Linked DNA regions of Homo sapiens: all the other regions are reported to be linked to region 1. Evidence: microRNA targets listed by miRTarBase, many of them from high-throughput screens and not tested one by one. Region 1 holds a microRNA gene; each other region holds the end of a gene's coding sequence.

Evidence for each region. The annotated mature microRNA hsa-miR-124-3p reads UAAGGCACGCGGUGAAUGCCAA and lies in region 1 at 2,764-2,785, opposite strand. An mRNA with a match to its seed (bases 2 to 7 or 8) in the 3' UTR can be bound and repressed. Matches are read on the target gene's strand: a 7mer-m8 pairs with bases 2 to 8, a 7mer-A1 pairs with bases 2 to 7 and ends in A, and an 8mer does both.
Region 2: miRTarBase lists MORC4 as a target of hsa-miR-124-3p. Seed matches in the 3' UTR shown: 7mer-A1 at 815-821.
Region 3: the mRNA of CEBPE is a reported target of hsa-miR-124-3p. The part of its 3' UTR that is shown has no 7-base or 8-base seed match.

Annotation. Positions count from the first base shown.
Region 1 is chr8:64,377,928-64,381,994 of GRCh38, reverse strand. It overlaps MIR124-2 (microRNA 124-2), which reads right to left and starts at 2,846; the gene lies at 2,738-2,846. It overlaps MIR124-2HG (MIR124-2 host gene), which reads right to left. Exons shown (of 3, transcript NR_109792.1): 2 at 3,506-3,936; 3 at 1-392.
Region 2 is chrX:106,938,106-106,942,172 of GRCh38, reverse strand. It overlaps MORC4 (MORC family CW-type zinc finger 4), which reads left to right. Exons shown (of 17, transcript NM_024657.5): 16 at 1-235; 17 at 541-1,435. The coding sequence ends at 694. Among named protein-coding and RNA genes, the nearest start is that of CLDN2, 20 kb to the right of the region's middle.
Region 3 is chr14:23,113,852-23,117,918 of GRCh38, forward strand. It overlaps CEBPE (CCAAT enhancer binding protein epsilon), which reads right to left. Exons shown (of 2, transcript NM_001805.4): 2 at 3,455-3,971. The coding sequence ends at 3,636. Among named protein-coding and RNA genes, the nearest start is that of CEBPE, 3.4 kb to the right of the region's middle. RefSeq lists enhancers at 31-749, 915-2,114.

The sequences.
Region 1 (4,067 bases):
TGGGCATCAAACTGGATGATTATTTTCCAAAGAAATAGGAAGTACATAGTCTTAAAAATCTAGAAACATCACGGATCAATAGCCACTCGATTTCATCTAGGCAACCGAATTACTAAATTGAGTGTTTCCCTTTTTAAGCAGTATTTTAACCTCTCTCATATCACGTATTTCATTTCTATTTAGAAAGCAATTTTAAACTGATCAAGCTTTCTGAAGGACAAGTTTAGATGATCCTAAACAGGTAGGATTAGGCTGAGGGGATTAGGTTTGCTCCTCTGAGGTAGTATGAATTCTAAAGGAATCAGGCAGGACGATTTTGCAGCCCTGGACCATAGCTGCTTTGTGGATTACGCAAGATGTGGATGCAGGAGATCAGCGCAATTGGATGAATACTGGAAGGAAAAAGCAAGGCCGCCATGATAACGTGTAATGCTTTAAATTCATTTCTGCTTCCAACGACTGCTTTTAATTGGCACAAGAGGAATATTCCCAATCCTTAAATTTTGTAATTCGAGCAGCCCCTATTTTCCAGTGTGCTTTACCCACCCACTCCGAAATTGGATAAAATTAAATATAAACCAAAGTAATCGATGAATGTGAAAGACCCGACTTGCAGAGTTCTAAAATTCGAGGACAGATAAAATCCGCCCTGAGGCAGGGGGTGAGAAGGCAGCTCTCTGAGGATATTGCACCTGGCCGCTTTATTTCATGAATTTTATGATACATCTACATCCCGTGTAAAAAAAATAACTTAATGAACACATGTCTTTTAGGTCATTGTCAATGCATGGCCCATTGTTATACCTGGATCAAAATCGGTGTTGCTGTCTCTATTGTCCAACCTGAATTATTTTGTCTGTTACTAATTTTAACACCCTTTATGTTTGTGAATTTATAGACAAACTCAAGCAAATGCATAGAAATTTCTTTTGAGAAATAGCCAGCCAGGGTGGCTACGAATTGGTTGATTTTCCGTCTCTCTCTCTCTCTCTCTCCCTTGCCATTTTGATTCATTACTTAGGGAATTTAAATTTGTATTGTTTACATTTAATACTTTCAACATCTAAGAACGATGAAATATGCTAAGAAATTTAGATTTTTGAATATATCAATACTGACTCATCCAACCTTCGATTTCTAAGGCGAATTTTCACTGCATAAGATTTAGTAAACCGCCCTGCCTCTTTCCGTCGCGTGAGCTATGAGGATGTGGCTGAGGTCGGTTTTTCCGCAGTGCGGGTTTCAGGCCTCCTGGCCCTCCAGTGCCTCCCGCCGGCTGGGATGCGCCGAGCAGGCTCCTGCGCAGCAGAGCGGTCTGCAGAGCTCAGCCCTCTGTACCCGTCTACTAAGGCTGCCGGGCTGCAAGGCCTGGCCGAAGGTGGCAAGCTGCATGGGCTCCTGCCCTGTTTCACCTGGTGGGTCCCCGACCCACCCCTTCCTAGTTAAGCCTCGAGGCCCACACTTGAGTCCATTGCACGTCCCTTTGGTGACCAAGTAAGCACTAAAATCCGCGGCTGAGGACCTTATGTTTCTGTTTTAAGGAAGATGATTTAAGAAAGAAAAGGATAATAATAAAGCCTTCATTCTCCTCAATTTCCTTCTTGCAATCCTGCGATTTAGGTTTCAGCCTAAATAAAGTGGAAATGGTTTCCCCATACACTTACAATGTATGTATGTGTGCATTCCTACGTGAAGACCAAAAAGTGTCAGGCAAGGGTAGCAACCAGCTTGAGGGAACGATTTCAGTAAAATATTGTTTTGCTGTATGTGACCTTTTTCTCTTTTTAAATGTTATTTTTCAAATTACCTAATATCCTACTCTTCTTTTGAGTAGGGACGGGACGGTCCTATTGCTTTTCCAGTTTGATTACGGAGAGAGAAAAGGGCCACGGTCAGCACCGCGGACAGCGCCAGGCAGGGAGGGCGCGGCTACTTTGGTGCATCCTCTTAGCTCCTCTCCTTTGTTCCCAACCCCTGCAGGCCAAGGCAGAACAAAGACATCAAGGCTCGCTTTTTCGGCCTGGGTTTTTCTTTGGCTCCAAAGTCGTGGTGCGGAACTGCTACCTCAACATAGTCCACCTCACTGGCTTCCAAACAAATTAATTTACCGAGTCCTTCTAAAGTTTCTGACCTGGTCCTTTCACCTTATCCCACTCCTTTGACCGATTTGGACATTGCGACAATGCCAAAACAAGAGAGTTATCTTGGCGTCTTAAAGCCAGGCATGAACGCCTCGAGATTGGGAAGAAAAAGGGAGAAGTCAAGGGGAAATGCGGGCGGCAAGTGTTCTTCAGATCTTTCCAAAGTTTGGACGTTTCATTTGCTGTTTCTTGCGCAGTGTGGTCAGGACGCTATTTAATGTTACACCTCTCTCTGCTGTTTTGTTTTCCCAGCTTGGCCCAGGACTGCAGACAATCACACTACCTGTTCTTGAAAGAACTAGTGCTTTCTAAATGATTTAACTCTCTGGAATATTTGCACAGGCGGGAACTACTGCTCTCCAGACAGCTGTCAATGAAGCTTCCCTAAAATTCTCCTCGGAGATTTGCCTGCGGATTTCCGCGGCTGTAATGGAAAAGTAGGAGCCTTTCCCTTTCGAACACTAGGTTGCTTCCAGAATCAGTCCTGGGTGGGGGTGGGGGGCATTTATGCGGCAAGAGATGGGTTCCTTTTACTACCCCCTAAATTCCCTGCAATTGCTTTTTCCCCTTTCTGACCCTGAGATGCTTTGGTGTCCTTCAAGTGCAGCCGTAGGCTCCGCTCTTGGCATTCACCGCGTGCCTTAATTGTATGACATTAAATCAAGGTCCGCTGTGAACACGGAGAGCAGAGCCTCTAATCTTGATCCGGAAAGTATAAGACCCACTGCGATTACCACTCTTCTCTCCCTGCCCATCCCCCTCTCTCCGCTCTGAGTCTCTACCCCTAGAGTCATAACTCATAAGCCCAGCTCCTGTCTCTGCTCATCTCTGACACATCTGCCAGAGCCGCTGTTAATTAGTCTGTTCCGTGGAAGTGTAGACGGTGCGTGTGCCTGCGTATACATATGCATATATCTCCATGCCATTTACAGCACACGCCTAAAAACATACATAAGCCTATAAATCTAGTTTTCAAATGACGGCGTGGATCCAAGTTAATTACCCCTCTGGTACAGATCTAATTTTGTAATCGTGTTATTTTACTGAATGCAATTAACCCAGTTGGTTCGCCCTGAATCCTTTCTAAGGCACTTGTAAGGAATGGCAGGTTTTTAAGGACCACGCTATTGCATGTTCTCCGTCATAACCATTGCCAATCATTTTCTGCTGTCAGGGATGAAATCTAGCATATAAAAGAGAAAACCATGCGTGTGTGCCTGTAAGATAAACACACAGATATGCCTGGGCTCTGTGTCCTTTGATAACGTTACCGCGGGTTTGGTTGGGAGATTTTGGGAAAAGAGAGTCCAAGGGCGGGCTGGGTCATCTTTCTTTGTAATGCGGAAAAATTAACTCATCCGCACCTGCCTAGTCCCGAGAGAGCTGGGCGGCCCATCTGGTCTGGCTACAAGTTTGCTGCGGAGAGAAAAGCCTGCTCACTAAAGCTTCCCCACTGCCCAGGAGCGCGGACCTCGGGTCTGGGCCCGGAAGAGGGATTAGGCTCAGGGCAGCGCAGCCGACTCGCACTCCTCAGCCAGTGGCCACAGTCTGGGGCTGGAAGCGCCTGGGCCGGGCGGAGGGAGGGCAAGCAGGAGAGAGAAAAGGGTGAGGGAAGTTGACCTCTACGGGCGGAGCCCTCTGCGCAGCGGGCAGGAGGCAGCGGGCGCGACGGCTCTTTTCACGGCGTCCCCTACGGCGTGGTCGACCCGAGGGAAAGGCCCGCTCCCGCTCCAGAGTCCGAGGAAAGGAGAGAGAGCTGAGAGCTGGTCTTGCGCAGAGACCCCAGAATGCGCCCCTGAAAAACAGAATCAAAGCGCAGTGTTAGGGAGGCGGGAGAGAGGAGGGGGAGGGTGGGGAGAGGGACACGAGGCGGGAGGGAGCATGCGAGGGATACAAGGTGACAAGAGGACAGGACCCCAGTCGGCC
Region 2 (4,067 bases), not on the chromosome of region 1:
AAGTCCAACATGAATTGGTGATCTACAGTACCCAGGAGGCGGAAGGCTTGTACTGGAGCAAGAAACACATGGGTTATCGCCAAGCTGAATTCCAGATTCTGAAAGCTGAGCTGGAAAGAACCAAAGAGGAAAAGCAAGAGTTAAAAGAGAAACTGAAGGAAACAGAGACACACCTGGAAATGCTGCAGAAGGCTCAGGTCTCCTACCGGACCCCAGAGGGAGATGACCTAGAAAGGTTAATTACTAGGGTTTAGTTATCAGCTTGTGAGTGCTAATGGGAAGCATCCCTTAGGACCCCCACTTACTGGCCGTAGACAAAGGAGGAAGCCTTAATTCACAGGCCACCAAGAATTGAGTAATTACTTCTTAGAAAGCTGCAGCCAGTCTCCCTGTGCTTGGTGGCGTTGTGCTTTCTTCTTTCTAGCTAATGAAAACATAACTGTTGAGAAATGTGGTTCCATTTTGAAGGGGCTTCATTTTATTCTGTTGGTTAATGACTTCATGTCATCTCTTCTCCTGCCCCCTCACTCCTTCATACAGGGCTTTGGCAAAGCTTACGCGGCTACGTATCCACGTCAGCTATCTCCTTACTTCTGTCCTCCCTCACTTGGAGCTTCGTGAGATCGGGTATGACTCAGAACAAGTGGATGGGATCCTGTACACGGTGCTGGAGGCAAATCACATACTGGATTGAGCACCAGACTGTATACCCTTCTCTTCTCTTATCTTCTGTCTGTTCTCTTTTCTCTCCCTCCCTCACGTCTCTCTCTCTCTCTCTCTCTCTCTCTCTCTCTCTCTCTCACCCTCACCTTTATGCCTTATATAGAGAATCTCTGTGTAAATCCTGGCTCATAATCAGTCTCCTTTTTATCAGTTTTGGTGTGGAGAAAGAGGCCAGTTTAAATAGGCTTTCAAGAGTCTAGGGTCAGAAAAGCAATAGTCACTAAGCTAGGTGACCTGAAAGCTTTAATTTTCATGACCTGGATATGTGGTCTATTGTATATCTTTTTCTGAAATGGTTTGTATTCATTTAGGTTAGATCAATCAGCAGATATTGGGTCCGGTATACCAGGTATTATTTTGGGGTAAGCTAACAAGTACAACTCATGTTTGCAGCCTTCGAAGATGTAACAATCTCGTTGGAAACATAAGACATACATCACATTATACACAAAAGTGTATGATATGTACAACTGAGTGGTACAGATATGACATGGAAGATCTGGGGGAGGAAGTTCAAGGAAGGCACCACACCAGAAATGGGACCTAAATTAAGGCTTAAAGAATGAGCATGGCCACACTGTCAGTGAGTGTTCTTTAGGTGGTAGGACTATGGTTGATATTTTTCTTCTTCCTATCTTCCTGCCTTTTTCAGATTTTCAATATTAAACTTGTTATTCTTACATTGGAAAAAAATAAATTGTTTTTAAAAAGATCAAGTAGGCTTGGATTTGAATATCAAATGAGAGATTATGTGAAAATATAAGGTAATGTTATATTTCTAATTTATATTAAATTTAGCATTACCTCTGGAAGAAGAAAAGCATAAACAAAGGCATGGAAAAATTTGGAATGTGAAAAATGTGTTCGATAGAAGTGGTGGGTTAATATAAAGGGGACTAAGGTTATATCATGATCTGTTCGCCTGCTTTGGTATTCGCATTTTAATAAGGGATTCTTGAAAAACCTATAAGGCTCAAATTAAAAAATATATTTGTCATCAAATTAATGGGATTTCAGGTAGTTAGGGAAGTACTTTAGAGTGGAATCTGATGTCCCTCAGAATATACCTACTTACTCTTCAGGCTAGTGCTGAGTGAGGGGTAAACTTCGTACTATCAGAAATAGTAAAACTTATTCTCTTGTAAAAGGAGACATTGTATTCATTTCTTTATTGTGTTTACATAGCACATACTCTCCAAAGAGTTCAGGGTACTTTTCAAAAGACATTGAATAATGAACACATAAAAATATACCAACAGTAAAAAGTAGGAAGTAGAGGAGAAACAATCAAAGGAAGGTGAGATCAAGCAGTGGCAAAAGGATTAGCTAGTCCAGAGGAAATGTCTTGGATATTCATTCTGTTTCTCCTCCACAGAGTTACTTCAGAACACTTTTCCAAATTAATTTTAACTCCTTCGAAAGGGGGCTCATAGTACATAGCCCAAGTGAGACTGCAGGGAATGAGGGGAGGCCAAATCCAGGCTTCATCATTAGAATGAGTACTTAAAGATACCCCCTGCCCCCTTACCTTCCACCTCACCCCAGCTCTAGCTTGCCATATGATTAATTTTCATGTTAGACATTTGGATTATGATAGTCAAGGCCGCAGTTGTCTAAATGTAAATAGTACCGAGGGAAGAGTAGCACATTCCGACATTCTCTCAGTGAGACTTATTCATCAGATGGGGGCTGTGAGTGGGTGAGATTTCACACAGATGGATGGGAGTCTGCTGGAAGGAAAAATTCAGAGCATTGAAGGTTCTGCCTGTGTGAGTGTTTGTTGGGTGAATGAGGGGACTGAGTAGGAAGGAGGGCAGGCAATGAGGCTTTAAAGGGAAGAAGGTAGGAAATTTGAACTCATCTTTCCTAGTGCTTACTCTCAGCCCATTCCCTGGTTTGTGGACCTGACCCCACACTGCTTTTTCCAGCACCACTGTCTGTGTGAGTCCATTCACTTCAATACCAGAGCCACCTCTTTGTTTCCTATTTACTAAGAAGCCATACCAGCATGAGATCTCCTTGATAGTGTTAAATCCCACTGTGGAAAGATTGAAAAATATCTCCCAGCCTTACCAGAGGTTACGATCTAGTGTGGAGGCAAAAGACATTGAGAAGAAAAAAGCAGGTGCCTCCTCCTGGCTCTCCTGTTAGGTTAACATAATCATAATTCCCCTTTGAAATGTCTCCCACATTTGCCCTTTAACTTCCTATTGCCATGATAAGCATTTAGGTTATTACCTAAATAACTTGTTACCTCATGCCTTGATTATCTAAATAAATTCTTAGATGGCCTCCCTTGCCTCCTGTTCTCCCTCCTCGATCCGCCCTACTCAGTGTCACCAAATTTTGTTTTTTAACAACTTCGTCAGGTCATGCCTCTGCTTAAAGACTTGCTAGTGTTCCCAATTGCCCACCGAGTACAATACAAATTCCCTAGGATGGTGCTCAAAGCCCTTTGTGATCTGGCTTCAGTCATCCTTTCTAGAGTCATCTTGAAACATTCCGGATACAAGCCACATTCCATCTAAACTGAACAATTTTCCAGTTTCTGAACATGCTTTTAAGATTTCTCCCATCTCCATCTTTGCAATTTCATTCCCTTTAGCTGCAATGCTTTCCCTCATCATCTTTCCTTTGGCTCAAATGCCAACTTTTTCCTGCAAACTTCTCTGATTAACCCAGCTAGACAAAAAATTTCTCTGTGAACATTTAAGTTTTCAAGGCTTTTATCACAAACATCCTTGTCCTGTCTTCCCTATTAGAAAGCTCTAGATTCAAATATTCAGCTGCCTACTTGACATGTACACTTAACATGCCTCATTAAAAATAAGCAGTGATACACCCTGGGGCTGTTCCCTTTCTCCCAGTTTTCCTCATCTTAGATAATGGCACCTCCACCCATCCAGTTGTTTAAGCTAGAAACCTGGAAGTTATCCCTAATTTTCCTCTTCTCTCACTCCCTACATCCAGTCTGTCAACAAGTCTGTCAGTTCTACTTCCAAAGTGTGTCTTGACTCTCCTCACTTTTACTACAGCTACCTTAGTCCAAACTGCCATGATCTCCCATGGGTTATTATAACTCCTAGCTGGAGTCCTTGCTTCTACTCTTGTTCCTACAGTTGTCTATAGACAGTGATTTTTTTTTTAAAGTAATAGATCATGTGACCCCCCTGCCTGAAGCCCTTAAATGACTTCTCATTGACACTTAGAATAAAATCCAAACTGCTTACAGTATCCTGCAAGGCCCCTGCCTACTTATACTTTGTCTCTTGCAACCCCTCTTCATATACCACTTTCCCCCTGGCTCACTGTAGTCTTCCTATGGACACATGTCGAGCTCTTAC
Region 3 (4,067 bases), not on the chromosome of region 1:
ATCTGTGTAGAGGGGTGGGGAGGTGTGCACCGAGCAGGGGGGTTGGGGGCAGCTTTCACAAGCCACTGCCTCCGCTGACTGACCTTGGCAGACTCACCTTGGGCAGCTTCCTCCCTCTGCAGTGTCTCCCCACAGTCTGTCTTCTCCTCTGCAGCTTCCCTGTGGCCTAAGATCCTGTCTCTCAGCTCAGGAGTCTCATTCTGCTCCCCAGTTCTGCTCCAGAAAGAAAAGTGGGCCTGAGCTGTGGGCGCTGAAGCAATAGGACTGCATGCGTGTGCTGTTTGGACCTTGATTTGCTGGTTTTCAAACGTTATCGAGTCCCCGGTCCTGGTGCCTTTCCCCAGGCAGGGTTTGGCTAACTGCCCTTCCCTGGGCTCCTTTCTGTCATCTCCTTCCCCAGTGGGGACAACCTTACTGTGGTAAAGGTGCCAGGAGGACCAAGGGGCAGGGAAGCTGAATCCAGGGGCAGAGAGAACCCTGCTCTCCACCTGCCCCGGCTTCTTAGGCACCATCCTCCTTGACAGAGGGAATGAAAATAGTCATTTGCAACCCCTGCAGCCCCATTCTGGAGGGAAGGTGCATCTTTTTCTTACTTATCCTCTCCTTCCTTCTTTCATTCAGCATCTACTCCTGGCTTCCTTTCTCTCGGTCACCTTAGGGCTTTTGCATTTACCCTTCCCTCTGTTCACCCTTACACTCAAAGACATACCTGCCTCCTTCTCAAAATTTTTGAAGTGTCAACTAAAATGTCACTTCCTCAGAGATACCTTTCTCGGCCACCCCAGCTAAAATAGCCTCCCTACCTGTTGGTTTATGTGGTTTCCCCAATGGGCTATTCAAATGGAGTAAGCAGGAGAAGTTAATTAAGGTGCTTTATGAAGATGTGAACCAACAGTATCTGGGGAAAGTTCCTGGAGTGGTGAAGTCCCCTGGGCTAGCCCAGCACGGGGGGCGCCTGAGGGCCAGGAATCCTTTGGGAGGGACTGTGGAGAGCGCCGGTCAGCAGGGGGCTCCCACCACTCTCCTCCTGCCAGTCTCACCCCCACCCCATGAGAGGCTGGTTGATGTAGGGAGGCATCCACCTGGGGACTGTGTAGGGTGATGAAGGGTGGAGAGGGTTCTGGAGGGGCAAAGGAAGACATTCAGCACACTTGTTTATTGACTTTTTCTTCCTACTCCTTCTGCTGAGAACTTGTCTCATTCCTAGAAAAGATACTCAACAAATACTTGTTGAATAAGTTACGTTGGCCAAAACCAATTGAGGTCAGATTGAAAGCCTCTTTCAGGAAGTGTGCCCTCTGGCTCTGACTCACACCCCTGGAATATGATCTGATGCAGAGGATTGGGATGTGTTCAGCTGCTGCACGTCACGCTGGGATCACAGTGGGGAGACGGGGATGTGACTCCCCCAGACTGGGTGCCAGTCAGGAAGGCTCCACTAGGCACCGGCCCTGAGGACCTGACTGGGTGAGCGGGGGCCTGAGAGGAGAAGCAATTCAGAGCTGTGGGAACAAAGCCTGGGCTTCATGCTGAAGCAACCCAGGTCCCATCACCCAGAACCTTGAAAGTAAGTCAAGGGACAGTGGTCTTGAGCTGAGAGGAGGAAATCCGGAGGTTGAGTCATTTACCATGTTCTGTACAAACCCCCCTTATGCAACCTATCCCCCTGGGCTGAAAGGAAGGTGTGAGGATTCTCCCAGGTGCCCACAGAGACTGGTACCTCCCCTCCTTCTGAACTCAGGAAGCTCCAGTCGGTCCCTCCACTGAAGGTTCAGATCTCTCCCTCCAAACCAGACCTGGGGCACGGGCCTCCAGGACACAGAGGTGCCCGAGAGACACAGAGGCAAAGGCAGGAAAAGGACTGAGTCCTGGGCAAGGTAGACATGCCGCACACGGATGCCCGAGGTGTGGGAGGGCTCTACCGCTGGAGATTTGAAGAAGGGAGAGAGATCTGGGATGATCCAGACACCAGTCTCTCACCTTCTCAGAAAATTATTCCTTGATGTCTGACTCAGCCTTTCACAGCATTGGCTTAGGAGAGACTTTAAGAAGCCCGTAATCTGTCCCTGGGTCCCTGACACTGTTGGGCACTGTTCTTTATTGAATGTGATTCATGTGACACTCGTACTGAGGATCTGTGAGAAGAGTGTAGCGTGGAGTAGAGAGACAGGTACCACGTACTGAGGCAGCAAAGGGACTCAGTGAGTGTCAGGAGAAGCCTCTTACCCCTCTGGCCCTCAACTGCTTTATCTGTAAAATGTGGCTCACCCTACCTTGCTGGTCTGAGGGCAGAGCCCACCAGATGATCTCTTGAGGTCTCTCCCAGCACATCTTGAGATCTGCGATTTTACAGAGCCAATTTTGGTTCTACCTCTAAACAATCGTGTGACTCCAGGTAAGTCCCTTCCCCTCTTTGCAGCCTGTTTTCTTACCTGCAAAATGAGTTTAGATGAGATCTCTGAGGTCCTTTCAGTTCCAGCAAAATGGAGGAATCATAATAAATATGCTTATTACATGCAAAGTTTTCTTTTTCTATGAATATAACAACACTACGGAGTGGGGACAAATATTGCAACCATTTTGCAGATGAGGAAACTGAGGCACAGAAAGACATAATGGCTCAAGGCTCACAGCTAGTAAGTAGCAGTGTAAGATTCAAACTGAGGCTCTTAATTATTGTACCATTCTGTCTCTTAGGCTGTAGTCCAATGCAAAAGAAAATGCTGTTTCGAATGATGGGTTTCCCTGGCACGGGCAGATTGTCATCCTCCTTCTCACTACCAGTGTTCTCATACACAAATCCGGTCTCCAGGTCTTTCCCAACCGATTCCTGTCCCATGCACTCAATTCTCAAGCTTTAGGGAACTGGAGCCTCAGGGATGAGGGACAAAGGATGGAAATGAATGGGTGGGAGCAGCGTGGGGAGGGTGTCCATCTGGTAGACTGAGGCTTTGGAAATGGAGAGAAGAGATGGCGGGCTGGATCAAGGGACCATAAATATGGCAGAGCCATCAGGAATTTTCCCATGGTCACCTGGGGCAGGAGCTCCCAGACCTATACCTCAAGGTGAGAGAGAGTGGGCCTGGGATCAGCAGGCCTGGGCATGAAGGACTGTGTGGTGCCGGGATCTCCCTACAAGCTGAAGATCTTTGTTAGCAGAGCATACAAAGGTGCTCCAGGTCCTGTGGGGGGCGGGGATGTGCCTTCAGCTCACAGAAGGGGGTGATGGGGGATGTCAGGGAGAGAAGAGCAGAGTGACAGATACACGGCCTGGCTGTGTGGTATATTGGGGGTGGGCTGTGGACAGCATGTCTGTGTTTCCACATGTCCACTTGGTCATGGAAACAAGAGGTGCAGACCTAGCCACATGCATCCTCTGTCCCCAGGGTCCTCCATGACACACACACACACACACACACACACACACACACACACACAGCCAACAGTCCCAACACCCAGTCACAGTGCAACTTTATTCAGCCATATAATCATTATGCTGGGTCCTGCCCTCTTTGCCACCCCGGTTGCCATTTATCCATGGTCTATGTCTCAGGGTTCTAGGCCCCCAGCAGGATGGGGGTCCGCAGAGTTAGGCCGTGCCAGGGAGCCTGGTGCCCACAATCCACCAGCCAGCCTCAGCTGCAACCCCCCACGCCCTTGATGAGGTTGGCCGCCTCAGGAATCTGGCGGAAGAGGTTGCGGAGGGTGTCTAGCTCCTGGGTGAGCTGCTCCACGCGGCTGCGGAGGCGCTCGTTCTCTGCCATGTACTCCAGCACCTTCTGCTGCGTCTCCAGAATGCGCCTCTTGGCCTTGTCTCGGCTCTTGCGCACGGCGATGTTGTTGCGCTCCCGCCTCAGCCGGTACTCAAGGCTATCTTTGTTCACTGCCTTCTTGCCCTTGTGTAAGGGGCCAGCCGGGGAGGGCGCCTTCAGGAGGGGACTGCAGGGGGGTGCGGCAGTGGCCAAAGGGGCCTGGAGGGGAAGGCACGGAGAGACGGAGAGGTGAGGGCTGGCCAGGAGGCAGAGCGGAGGCGGGGCGGGAATCTCGGCAGCCAGGGCACACTTGAT